3 separate regions of the Homo sapiens genome follow, and all the other regions are linked to region 1. Evidence: fine-mapped expression QTL. A gene starts in region 1. Each other region holds a variant in brackets. All regions are shown on one strand. Distances are between the middles of the regions.

The links. PIP is the estimated chance that this variant, and not a neighbour inherited with it, causes the effect.
Region 2: its variant is the best candidate, but not a certain one, in a credible set for the expression of FERRY3 in whole blood (INTERVAL, PIP 0.63).
Region 3: its variant is the best candidate, but not a certain one, in a credible set for the expression of FERRY3 in blood mononuclear cells (TOPMed, PIP 0.76).

What each region holds. Positions count from the first base shown.
Region 1 is chr12:4,536,073-4,540,434 of GRCh38, forward strand. FERRY3 (FERRY endosomal RAB5 effector complex subunit 3) reads right to left here and starts at 2,397. Exons shown (of 14, transcript NM_020374.4): 1 at 2,337-2,397; 2 at 1-147. The coding sequence starts at 122. It overlaps RAD51AP1 (RAD51 associated protein 1), which reads left to right and starts at 2,818. Exons shown (of 9, transcript NM_006479.5): 1 at 2,818-2,884. The coding sequence starts at 2,868. RefSeq lists enhancers at 2,032-2,641, 2,642-3,250 and a silencer at 2,377-2,426.
Region 2 is chr12:4,462,324-4,466,685 of GRCh38, forward strand. No RefSeq gene overlaps it. Among named protein-coding and RNA genes, the nearest start is that of FGF6, 19 kb to the left of the region's middle. The variant C/T (reference allele first, on the strand shown) is at 1,850.
Region 3 is chr12:4,492,793-4,496,792 of GRCh38, forward strand. All of the region lies in intron 11 of FERRY3 (FERRY endosomal RAB5 effector complex subunit 3), which reads right to left. Among named protein-coding and RNA genes, the nearest start is that of FERRY3, 44 kb to the right of the region's middle. The variant G/A (reference allele first, on the strand shown) is at 2,158.

The DNA of each region.
Region 1 (4,362 bases):
CTGGCATTCTCTTGAACAGGAAATTTGAGTGGCACTCTCAGTTCTAAGCACTGACTTCCTACTTTAAATTTATATACAAATTCTCTCTCTCTATTGCAGAATCTTTCTCTGTTTTTCTTCATATTCTTTGACAGGATTTCTACAGAACTAACAAAAAAGCAGTAGGTTATAAGTCCATAAAGAAATTATGTTTCATTATTGCTGTCCCATTTCTAAGAAAACATTCCACCATTCAAGAGATTTTGTCTATGAGCCAATTATTCTAGTTTTTCCCAAGTGTTTATCCCTGTACTTCCATCTTCATGATGAAAACAAAGTGCTTCTTTAAAAAAAAAAAAAAAGACACTTTGTTTTAAACTTGATTTAAGAAAAAAAATTATGGCCATAAAGTACTTTATATTCCAAGGCAGGGTTCTCAATAATAGGGAAGGACCATGGAGAGAAGAGCAGAGAGAATTCTTAGGGAGAGTTCATGGGTGGGGAAATACAAAGCTTAAGAAACCGTTGGTAAAAAGAAAGTCAAAGAAGCAGATCAGGGACCAAGGAGTGATCCTGGAGAACTTAGAGGTTGTGGTCATGAGATCCGACTGGGGGAAGGGGAGTAAGAAAGTGTTAGAAAGATTTCCATGTGGGAAGAAGATACACAGAAAAGAGAGAGTACAGGACCTCCACTTCCGGCCCACACCCCAAAGGCAAACTAGACACTACTAAGGAAGAAGAAAATCTAGTTAAAGGCAGTAAGAATCAACATCAATTAAAGATTTATTTATTCATCAGCCTTGTAACTGGACTTCCTATGGCTAGGCTTTCTCCCATCAAATCAGTTCTTACATTATTTTCTACACTGAAGTTATAGTAATCTTCCTTTTTAAAAAAGGAATATACTTATCTGATCATGTTGTTCATCCGCTTAAAAACTTTCTATGACATTCCATTGCTCTCAGGATAAAATGCAAACTCTTTATCCCAGTTTACAACACCCCTGCTTATATTTCCACTCTTCTCTCAGAAACTGCACCTCTCCTTCCTAATACACAAATTCACAAATTTTATTTTCCAGCCATTCTGAACTTCTGTCAACACCAAACTTCTCCTTCCATGCCGAATCTTTTTGAATGCCTTTTCCTTTGCCTAGAGCACTCTTACTGATCTTAATTTCATTGGATAACAATTGCTAATTCTTCAGGTCTCAGTTAAGCCTCTAGGAAGACTTATCCAACTCCCTAAAACTGGATTGGGTCCCGACAGGCTCTCATATTAGCCTAGACTTATTTGAATCATGGCACTTATCACGCTCTATTTCTTACTCTTGGCTAGAAAACAGTCTTCTTGAAGTGGAAGGAATACTGTCTTGTATTCCATGTATTAGGCAGGATGTTGCGAATGGCAAGAACTAATAAATAATTGTTGGATTGTATGGCGTTTTTATTTTATGGTGCTCACTGGAAAAATAAAGAACAAAAAATTATTCATACGGTTATTTAAAAAGATATCACCTGAAATATAAAAAAAACTCAAAGGACTTTTGTACATGTCGTGGGGCGGGGCTAAGTTGAATTATCCAGACTATATTTTCAAATCTGTATGTAGGCTATACACAAAAATCTTCGTCTATTTCACCATAATGCAAAGAGATAGGGTATTTGTTTTACTCAGAAAGAATTAAAATTAAACGTAAAGCAATACAAATTTTTATAATGTTAGAAAACTACCAAAACTACATAAAGGTATATTCTATGATGTAGAAATTTCATTCCTAAGTATATATCCAAATACACACACACGCATATGTTCGCTAAAGTACACCCAGAAGAATGCTCATATAAGTTTTATTTATAATACCCCAAACTGGAAACAACCAAAATGCGTATTAGTAGGAGAATAGTAAACTTGTTTATTTTATGAGATAAATACTACACAGCAATAAAAAAGAATCAACCACTGATAAATGCAAAAATATGAATGAATCAGGAATGTTGAAAAAAAAAAGAGAAGGCAGACACAAAAGCTCTGGTTCAACATTTAGACTTGTGTTTCAAGAAACTGATAACTTTAGTTCTTTCTCCTCTCGCTCTTTTTTTAGACTAATGGTCTATCCTGAAGCCTGGGTTCAGTTTTAGCAACCGTGAAATCCAGGAAGGTTTCCCATAAGAAAATGGGATGGAAGGTCTGGACCGAACACACACAGCCAACAGAGCGGAGGCTCTGAGGCTCACATTAATCAGGGAAAAGGAAGACAGACGGTCGAGCTGAGAAACTTCAGCCGGGTGAGGGGACTAATCCCTCTGTAACGGTTGTCAGTCTGAAAGGGCATCCTCACTCGGTTCTGGGCTCACCTCGTCTAGTTCCGAAGTCCTGGGCAGTCCGCTCACTCGAGCTGTCAGCGCGTCCTGCACTGGGAAACCAGCTGACTTGCCGACATACTTTTTCCACACCGCGGATCCGCGAACGTAGATTCGCCACATCCTTTTCTATTTCCTGGCATCTTGTAGAAAATTTCTCAGTCCAAGTGCCCCTATGTCCCAACCTGTTTCAATTTAACAATTTGAAAGGTGCAATAAGGTGTATTTCTATTGTTATTCTGTATTTCAGAGACAGGGCAAATCCGCCGTTGTGACGAAAGTGCAGGGACAAAGCACAAACTCGGCTCTGGTGGACCGGATACGGAAAAGCGGTGCCTTGGGGAGGGCGGGAGCAAATTCGCTTTCCCCACAGCGCGTGCGCCGCCGCAAGCATGGCTGGTGATGATTGGACGACTGGTAACAGGGGGCGGAGGGCTCCGAAGTCTGGTTTTGGGCGGGAATTGAAACCGCCGCTGAAGCCAACAAGAATTTGAGAACTGTAAATACCAAGCCTTGAAAGGGACCATGGTGCGGCCTGTGAGGTGGGTAGTTCCTGACATTCGTCGGGGGTGGGAGGAAAACTAAGGGAAAAGACATGAGACTAAGGGGAAAGGATCGAGTAAGACCGGAGGGCAGCGATGGTGGGGTTAGGATGGACGGTTATCAAGAACCCAGTCTCCAGTGAGAGCCACCCGTTGCTCAGAAGTATCCTAGCATCGTAGCTTTTTCCTTCTCTTTGCCTCCCTTCACAACCGTCGCCGTTTCTTTTACCAAGACCTTGTTAGCGTTTGAACAGCGCTTTACATTTCACCGAGCGCCCAATTATGTGTTATTTTATTTGTTTATCACTGTAGTTATTTGATATAGAAAGAGTAAGCATTCCTGTTGTATTGATTTAACATTTCTACGTATAGAGGGTAAGTTATCTGAGTCATACAGCCCAGTAAGTGGCAGGGCAATACTCAAACCTAAGTCATCTCACTCAAGATCCTCTGTGCTTTCCATCGTGGTATTAGAAACGATTCTTCTATTTACACAGTTGAGTGCCATGGAAGCCTATAGTTAGCCATTCATTTAATAAAGTTATTGAATATATTCACTTCTTTAGTGTACGAGGTGCTGGAGGTTACATTCCAGTGGGAGGTGAGGTTAGGGGGCCGAAAATAAGCCTCGAAATATGAGAGTGCGAAAGAGGAAAGCACTACTTTAAATATAGTAGTTAATATGTGACTCTGAGGCGATAATGCATGCACTGAGTCATGAATCAGGGTAGAGGGAATAGGAGCCAAGGCCCCATACTTGACCATATTTTAGGGACAGTCTAATGCTATAGGATTAACAAGCAGTGGGGAGAATCGTAGGGGGATTAGGCCAGAGAAATAGGCAGGTGCCAGAACAGATAGGGTCTTGTAAGTCTTAGAAAGGAGTTTAGGTTTTATTTTAAGTCAATGGGAAGTCAGTGGAGGGTTTTAAGTAGGGGAGAGGAATCTAAGTTTGCTTTTATAAAGGTCACTGGCTGTTGGTGGAGAATAAATGATGGATAGGGTGACCAGAACGGGAGCAGGAAAATCAGGTATTATATCATTGGAGAGCGGTTTGGGATAGGGTATTATTAGTGGGCATGGAATGGAACAGATGAATTTGGGATGTATTTCGGAGGCACTGTGGACAGAACTTGCTGATGAAGTAGATGTACAGGTAAGGGAAAGAAAGAATCAGAGATGACTCCACAATAGTTTTGGTCTGAGCTACAGGATGGATGATCTTTGTATTAAGATAGGGAAGACTAGGAAAAGGAAGGTTAGGAGGTGTGAGGGATCAAGATTTCTGTTTCGAACATGCTGAATTTGAAATGGGTTTTAAGCATCCAGGCAGTGGAGTCATAATCCCTTTGTAAGGAACAGCAGTTGTTAAAGTATGGTCTACAGACCTCTGTGGGTCCCTGGAAACTTCTCTAGAGGTCTATGAGGTCAAAACTCCTTTCATAACAATACTAAGATATGATTTGCCTTTTTCGCTG
Region 2 (4,362 bases), 74 kb before region 1:
TGGTGGCACGCACCTGTAGTCCCAGCTACTTGGGAGGCTGAGGCAGGAGAATCACTTGAACCTGGGAGGCAGAGGTTGCAGTGAGCCGAGATCGTGTCACTGCACTCCAGCCTGGCGACAGAGCGAGACTCCATCTTGCAAAAAAAAAAAAAAAAAAAAAAAAGAATCTTAAAGCAACCAAAGGGAAAAACAAAGTTGAGGATGACCATACATTTTTGTAGGATATATTGAGAGCAAGAAGACAGGGACCAACATCGTTAAAATACTGCAAGAAAACAGTCAATCTAGAATTCTATGCCTAACAAAATATATTTTAAAAAGGCAAAATGATGACATTTGCGGCCAGTAAGAGTTAAATATTAAAGTGAGTCCTTTAGGAAGAAGAAAAATGATGCCAGATAGAAATGCAGACTACATAAAGGAATGAAAAGCACCCAAAATGGTAAATATGTTGGCAAATATATAAGATTTTTTAAAAAGTCATTTAAGTATATTTAAGACATAATTGATTAAACACAAATAATAACAATGTAGCGTAGAGTTTATAATACATGTAGAAATAGAATTTATGACAATAGCAGAAAGTTCAGGAAGAGACAAATGTTATAAAGTTCTTATGTTATACAGGAAGTAATAGAATGACACTTGAAGGTGGACTGTGATGTTAAAAATGTGCTATAAACTGTAAAGCAACTATTAAAAGAATAACAGACTTACAGTTAATAAGTCAACAAAAATGGGATGTTTAAAAGTACTCAGTTAACTCAAAGAAAAGCAGAAAAAGAAGAAAAAGGGAACAGAGATAAGACAAATAGAAAAATAGTGATGTTAGATTTAAACTCAGTCATACCAATAATCACATTAAATACAAATAGTACAAATATGTCAATTAACAGCTGAGATTGGCATATTAGATAAAACAGAATGATGATGTATGTTGCCTAGAACAAAGCCATTGTAAATATAAAGATACAAATATCTCAAAAATAAATCAAGAGACAGCTTGAGTGTCTAAAAGCTGGAGTGCCAAAATAGATTTCAAAGCAAAGAATGCTATAAGCAACAAAGAAGGTGATTTCATAATGGAAAAGGGGTCAAATAATAGAAGTGAGCATAACGATCATAACTATTTATGCACCTGATAGTAGAATTTTAGAAAACATGACGCAAAACTGATATAATTACAGAAAGAAATAGACAAATCCACAACTACAGTCAGAGATTTCAATACTCTGTCTCAATAAGTCATAGAACACGTAAACTGAAAATTAGTAGGGATGGAGGTTATCAACAAATCTTATCTAATATGAATTTCAAGAGCTCTCCATCCAGTAATAGCAGAATACTCATTATTTTTAAGGGCACATGGTACATTTACCCAAGTAGATCATGGCTTCACTGGTAAATTTTACCAAACATTTAAGGAAAAAATAATATCTGTTCTACACGAACTCTTCCAGAAAATTGATGAAGAGGATACTTCTCAATTAAACCAGCATTTTTACCACACCCAGATAAAAACGTTAGAATTAAAATAATAACAGCAAACAACAGCAATTATAGCCCAATATCTTTCATGAACATAGATGCAAACTTTTTTTTTTTTTTTGAGACGGAGTCTTGCTCTGTTGCCCAGGCTAGAGTGCAAGTGGCAGAATCTTGCCTCACTGCAAGCTCCACCTCCTGGGTTCACGCCATTCTCCTGCCTCAGCCTCCCGAGTAGCTGGGACTACAGGCGCCCGCCACCATGCCCAGCTAATTTTTTTGCGTGTGTATTTTTAGTAGAGACGGGGTTTCACCATGTTAGCCAGGATGGTCTCGATCTCCTGACCTCATGATCTGCCTGCCT[C/T]GGCCTCCCAAAGTGCTAGGATTACAGGCGTGAGCCACTGCATCCGGCCAGATGCAAACATTCTTAATACAATTTTAGCAAATCAGTTACAACAATATATAAAAGGATAACATATCATAACTTCATGGGATTTTTCCCAAAAATGCAATCTTAGTTTAACATTCAAAAACCAATGTAATTCACCATTTAACAAACAAAAAAAGGTTATGATAATCTCAATGTACACAGAAAAAGCATTTGACAGAATTAATATCCATTCCTAATGAAAACTCTCAGAAAATCAAGAACAAACTGGAAATGCCTAAGCTTGGTAAAGGGCATCTGTGAAAAACCTATTCTAACATTATACTTAATGGTTTAAGATTAAATACTTTCACCCTAATATTGGAAACAAGTCAAACATATTTGCTGTCATTACTTCTATTTGACATTATACTAAAGGTTCTAACCAGTGCAATTAGGCAAGAAAAAGAAGTAAAAGTCTTCTATATTGGAGAGAAAGAAGAAAAACTGTATTTGCAGAGAATATGATTCTCTGGAGAGAAAGTCCCAAGGAGTTAACAACAACAACAACAACACCACCACAAAAAAGTTGGTAGTATAACGAACAGCCTACAAGTGAAATTAAGAAAATAATTCTATTCACAATAGCAGCAAAAAAAATGTAATACTTAGGAATAAATTCAGCCAAAGACATTCAAAACTTACACACTGAAAACTACAAAGGATTGCTGAGAGAAATGTTAAAAGATCTAAATAAATGCATAGTCATTTGTGATGGTTAATTTTGTGTCAACTTTGTTGGGTTACGGAGCGCAGCTATTAGGTCAAACATTATTCTGGATGTCCCTGCGAGGCTGTTTTTAGATAAGTTTACCATTTAAATGGGTAAACTTTGAATAAAGCATGCTCTCCTCCATAATGTGAGTGAGCCTCACCCAGTCAGTGGAAGGCCAGAATAGAACAAAAGGACTGACCTCCCCTGAGCAAGAAGGGATTCTGCAGCAGGTGGTCTTCAGATTAAACCTCTACCTCTACATGTACAAAACCAACTACGTATACAAGACCGTATACAAAAATCAACTCAAAATGGATTCAAGACTTAAACGTAAAACCCAGAACTATGAAATTACTATAAGAAAACATAGGGGAATTACTTCACAAATTGGGTTGGGTAAGGAGTCTTTAAATAAGACCTCAAAAGCACAAGTAACAAAAGCAAAAATGGACAAATGAGACTATATCCAACTAAAAAGCTTTTCCAAAGCAAAAACAAAAATAAAAAAAAAAACAGAGTTGAGACAACCTACAGAATGAGAGAAGGTATTTGCAAAGTATACATCTGTCAAGGATTAATATCCAGAATAGATAAGGAATTCAAAGAACTCAACAGCAAAACAACAACAACAACAACAAAGCAAAGCAAAACAAAAAAAGTCTGATTTTAAAATGGGCAAAAGACCTTAATAGACATTTCTTAAAAGAAGACACACCAATGGCCAACAGGCATATGAAGAAATGCTCAACATCACTAATCATCAGGGAAATGCAAATCAAAACTACCGTGAGCCACCATCTCACTCCAGTTAGAATAGCTGTTGTAAAAAAGATGAAAGAAAACAAGTGTTAGTGAGGATGTGGAGAAAAGGGAACACTTACACATTGTTGGTGGAATTGTAAACTAGTACAGCCATTATGAAAAACAGCATGGAGTTTCCTAAAAATATTAAAAGTAGAACTACCATATTATGCAGCAATCCTACTACAAAGTGTAAGTCCAAAGGAAATGAAATCAGTATGCCAAAGAGATATCTGCACTCTCATGTTTATTGCACCACTATTTACAATAGCCAAGATATGAAGATACGGAATCAATGTAAGTGTCCATCAACAGATAAATGGAGAAAGAAATATATATATATATATATACGCACACACAATGAAATACTATTCAGCTATAAAAAGAATGAAATCCTGTCATTCATGACAACATGGATGGACGTGGAAGACACCATGTGAAGTAAAATGAACCAGACATAGAAAGACAAATACTGCATTATCTCACTTATATATGGAATCTAAAAACATAAGAGTTGATATTATAGAAGCAGAGAGTATAACAGTGGTTACCAGAGACTGGGAAGGGGAAGGGGAAGAAGCAGATGAGGAGAGGTTGGTCAATGGGAGCAAAGTCACCACTGATGGGAGGAATAAGTTCTGGTGTTCTATTGTATGGTGGGGTGATTATGGCTAATAGTAAAATACTGTATATCGCAAAATAGCTAGAAGAGAGACTTTTGAATGTTCTCACCACAAAGAAATGATAAATGCATGAGGTGATAGATGAGGTGTCATTAGAGAAATACAAATAAAAACTACAATAAGATATCCTTTCACACCCACTAGAAAGGCTCTATAATAAAAAACATAGACAATAACAAGGGTTTGTGAGATTGTGGAAAAGAAAAAACTGAAACCCCCATATACTGCTGGAGAGAAGGTAAAATGACACA
Region 3 (4,000 bases), 43 kb before region 1:
CTCCTGTTTTAAGAACTTACAATTGCTTCCTACTGTCTCACACATAATATGTAAGCCTTTCTTTTACTATTTAAGGCTACATACTTTAAAGCCAAAGCTACTTTAAGCTTCTGTGACTTTTAAATTTTTAAAAATGAAGGTTTCATTCAAGTATATCTGCTCACATTTGCCTAAACATGGTCTGCAATGCCTGTCACCCACCTCCCTCCATTTTTCCTCAATCTGTTTCTTCTACCTACAATGCCCTTCTCGGTAATTCCATCTATTGAACCTGATCTTCATTTTTCAATGTCCAGCTTAATTGCCATCTCCTCCATACAGTATTTCCTATTTTTCCAGCTACAAATATGTCTCCATTTTCTGAACTCCCAAAGTACTTTACTGTTCTTTTATCTCAATGCTCACATTTTTATCCTGTCGTTTTTGGGGAGGAGGGCAGAGGAATGGGCAGAAGAATGGGATTTATTCTTTCTCTTCTTGATTAAGTTGTGTGCTCTCTGAAGGTAGAAGCCACTTTTTATTCACCCTTATTACCTTTACAATGCCTTCTATAATACTGAGCAATACACATGCTCAAAAACATAGGTTGAGTGAATTAGCTTTTATCCATGGACATTTAAAAAGAATGTGACTTTCTCTGTAGCCAGAAATAGGGTTTAATAGGAAGCTACTTTTAAATTTGTGTCCAAGACACTTTGTTTTAAGATTGATTAAAGAAAGGTCTAGTTTTTTAGTTGGCTAAAAAGTAAAGAATCCTCTTGGGTTAGGTTCTGGAAGCTTCTAAAAATTCACTAGAATTTTCTGATATTCCACTTTAAGTTATAACACTTTGGCTTCAAAGTTCACAGAAAGAAGAGTATTTCCTTCTAACTGCAAAGGCTGCTACAAAAGAGCTACAGTGGTCTTATGGAGTACACACATGCATGGAGGGACAAGTGTTTGGTTTTTTTGTATTACTTCCTCCTAGTGAAAAGATGATGTACAGAGAGAACGAGGTGACTAAGAAATGTCTACAGCTGGCCGGGAGTGGTGGCTCACACCTGTAATCCCAGCACTTTGGGAGGCCGAGGCAGGCGGATCATCTGAGGTCAGAAGTTCGAGACCAGCCTGGCCAACGTGGTGAAACCCCGTCTCTACTAAAAATACAAAAATTAGCTGGGCATGATGGTGGGCGCCTGTAATCCCAGCTACTTGGGAGGATGAGGCAGGAGAATTGCTTGAACCTGCAAGACGGAGGTTGCAGTGAGCTGAGATCACGCCACTGTACTCCAGCCTGGGTAACAGAGCAGGACTCCGTCTCAAAAAATAAATAAATAAATAAATGTCTACCGCTACGGAGCAATGCTGATGGCTCTAAAAACTACAATAATAATGTCTTATGTTTACATGGAACTTTACAATATAAATAATCTAACAAAAATAACCTTTATAAATTTAAAAAAAAAAGATGCTCAGAGAGGTACAGCGAATTGCTTATGTGACAGCCTGAGGCTTGAATTTTCATTTTCTTAATAGCATCTTTTGATGAGCTAAAGTTTTGAATTTTAAAATATAATTTATTACGTTCGTCTTTTATGGCTTATGCCTTTGTGGCCTAACAAATTTTAACCTGCTTAACCTGATGTCATCAGGATTTTCTTTTATGTTTTCCTCTAGAAGCATTATAATATTAGCTCTTTTGTTTAGGTCTGATCCATTTTAAATTAATTTTTATATATGATATAATGTAAGGGTTACGATTGTCTTTTCTATACGAATACCCAGTTGTTTCAACAACACTGAAAAGATTATCCTTTCTCCCACTGCATTGCCTTGGCATCTTTGCTGGAGATCAAATGACCATATATGTATGGATTTATGTCTGGATGCTTTATTCTGTTTTCTGATCCACAGTCTATTCTTTTGCCAATATCACATTGCACTGATTACTGTAACTTCATAGCAGGTTCTGAAATTAGTTAGTGTAAGTTCTTTAACTTTGTTCTTTTTCAAAATTGTTTTGGCTGTTTCAGGTCCTGTGCATTTCCATATACATTTTAGAATTAGCTTGTCAAAATCTCAAAATTACCTTATAAGAATTCCAATTGAGATTTAAATCTATAGATCAATTTTAGAACTATTATCTTGACAATATTGAGTGTTCCAATCCATGAGTAC[G/A]GGATATATTTCCATTTATTTAGGTCTTTTAAAATATCTCTCAGCAATGTTTTATAGTTGCCAGATCACTTTTCATAACATCTTTTTACTTGAAGGCATTTCAAGCTTGTCTTCAGTTCTTTAAACACAGTAATCAACTATTGTATGGTCTGTGTTTTATAATTCCAGTGCTTCAAGTCTTTGTGCATCTGTTTTTATGTTCAGTTGTTTCTGCTGATTCTCATTCACGGCATCTAATTTCATTAAGGACCTACTTATTCACTTACGTTAAACATTTTATTCAAGAACCCACATGTAGGAATAAATACTATTGTATAACTATTTGTATCATCTTAAAATATTACTCTAAAACCAATCATTTTTTGAAATACTATGATAGTAATCAGAATCAAGGAATTAGTACTATTTATACTGTTTTAATGAAGCACTCATTTTTAAATATAAAAAAGCATTTTCTGACAGTAACTTTTCTTATAATCCAGAATTTACTGACATCTATGATTAGCCTTGAATTATTTCAGGCTAAGGTCAAGTCTAAGCACCACTAGTCACAGGAGGACAACTAATGTGAACTGTAAGCATAGAGCTTATTGAAGGGCTAGTTTTGAATACCCACAAATAGAATACATATTATTCCAATGCATTAAAATTAGGATACTAATGGTAATAATGAAAGATTGTAACGCAAGTTAAAATAGGGATGGGTTAAATGGTATGACCAAAAGTAGGTAGGGGAAGAGTAATGAAGTTCGTTGTCCCACTTGTCCAAAGGTCATCACGTTTTCCTCATTAATACCCTGCTTTCTTGCTTTGTGTATATGTGTGATTAATAGCATGGTCTAGAGCAAGTATTTGTGATACAAATTAAGAACTTCACACTTTTCAGAATTTGGTATGAATTAATGACAAAATTTCATCAATGCTATTTAGAGAATATACCAAAATACCAATTTGTGACAGGACCCTAGCAAATCTTTGAAGTGACGGACATATTTTAAAAATAAATTTAATTCTCAGATGATATAAACTCTCATATTCAGTATACTTTAACTTAATGCCACTTAGCAGCGTATGACTCTAAGAGGAAACTAGACAGCTACCTGTATATGCATGTGCACGCACACAAACACACACACACATACGTCTGAGTTGTTTTCAAATCTTCCATGTGCCTCCATAGAGACTCCACCGTTAGCTTAAGATAGATGCTTGCAAGGTTTTTTAATCCTGTCCTTTTGTCTCTGATTAAAACCAGCACCTAAAAAGAATGGCTTTGGGTACTTAGAAAAAGTAAACTGTGAGCTTTAGAATTCAATAAGGTCATGAGAAGAATGACTTATTCAATGTCACCATGAGTTGTGGTCAGCAGTTTCACAAGGAGCTCACTTCTGGAAACAAATCTTAGTATATATGATATAATAGATGGTATAGACAACATAGTGGGCCAGGTAACAGTACAGAAAGTTTTTGATCATAAGTTCTAAATAATGGAAAAGTGACTAAATCTTAGTAACATGCCTGTGAGAATGCACTGTTAGAGAAATCCAATGAAGCTGGAAGGATCAGGTGAAACACTATAGACTTTATAACTGGCCAAAAATTGGGCCCTACTGTCACACTTTAGATGACATGTGCAAAGAAGATTCTAAACCTATGAAAATGAAATTGAAATCTCAGTTCTGACTATAACTGAGACAACGCCTTCTATCTAAAGCTCACTGTTACTCAACTTGAATCCTCTCATTAGGGTAAGGCTGAACTGCAGAGTTAGCCAGTATGTTCTTTTGAAGTCTTCACTGTATGTCTTGGAATTCAGATATAAGAATTATTATCTGAGTTTATG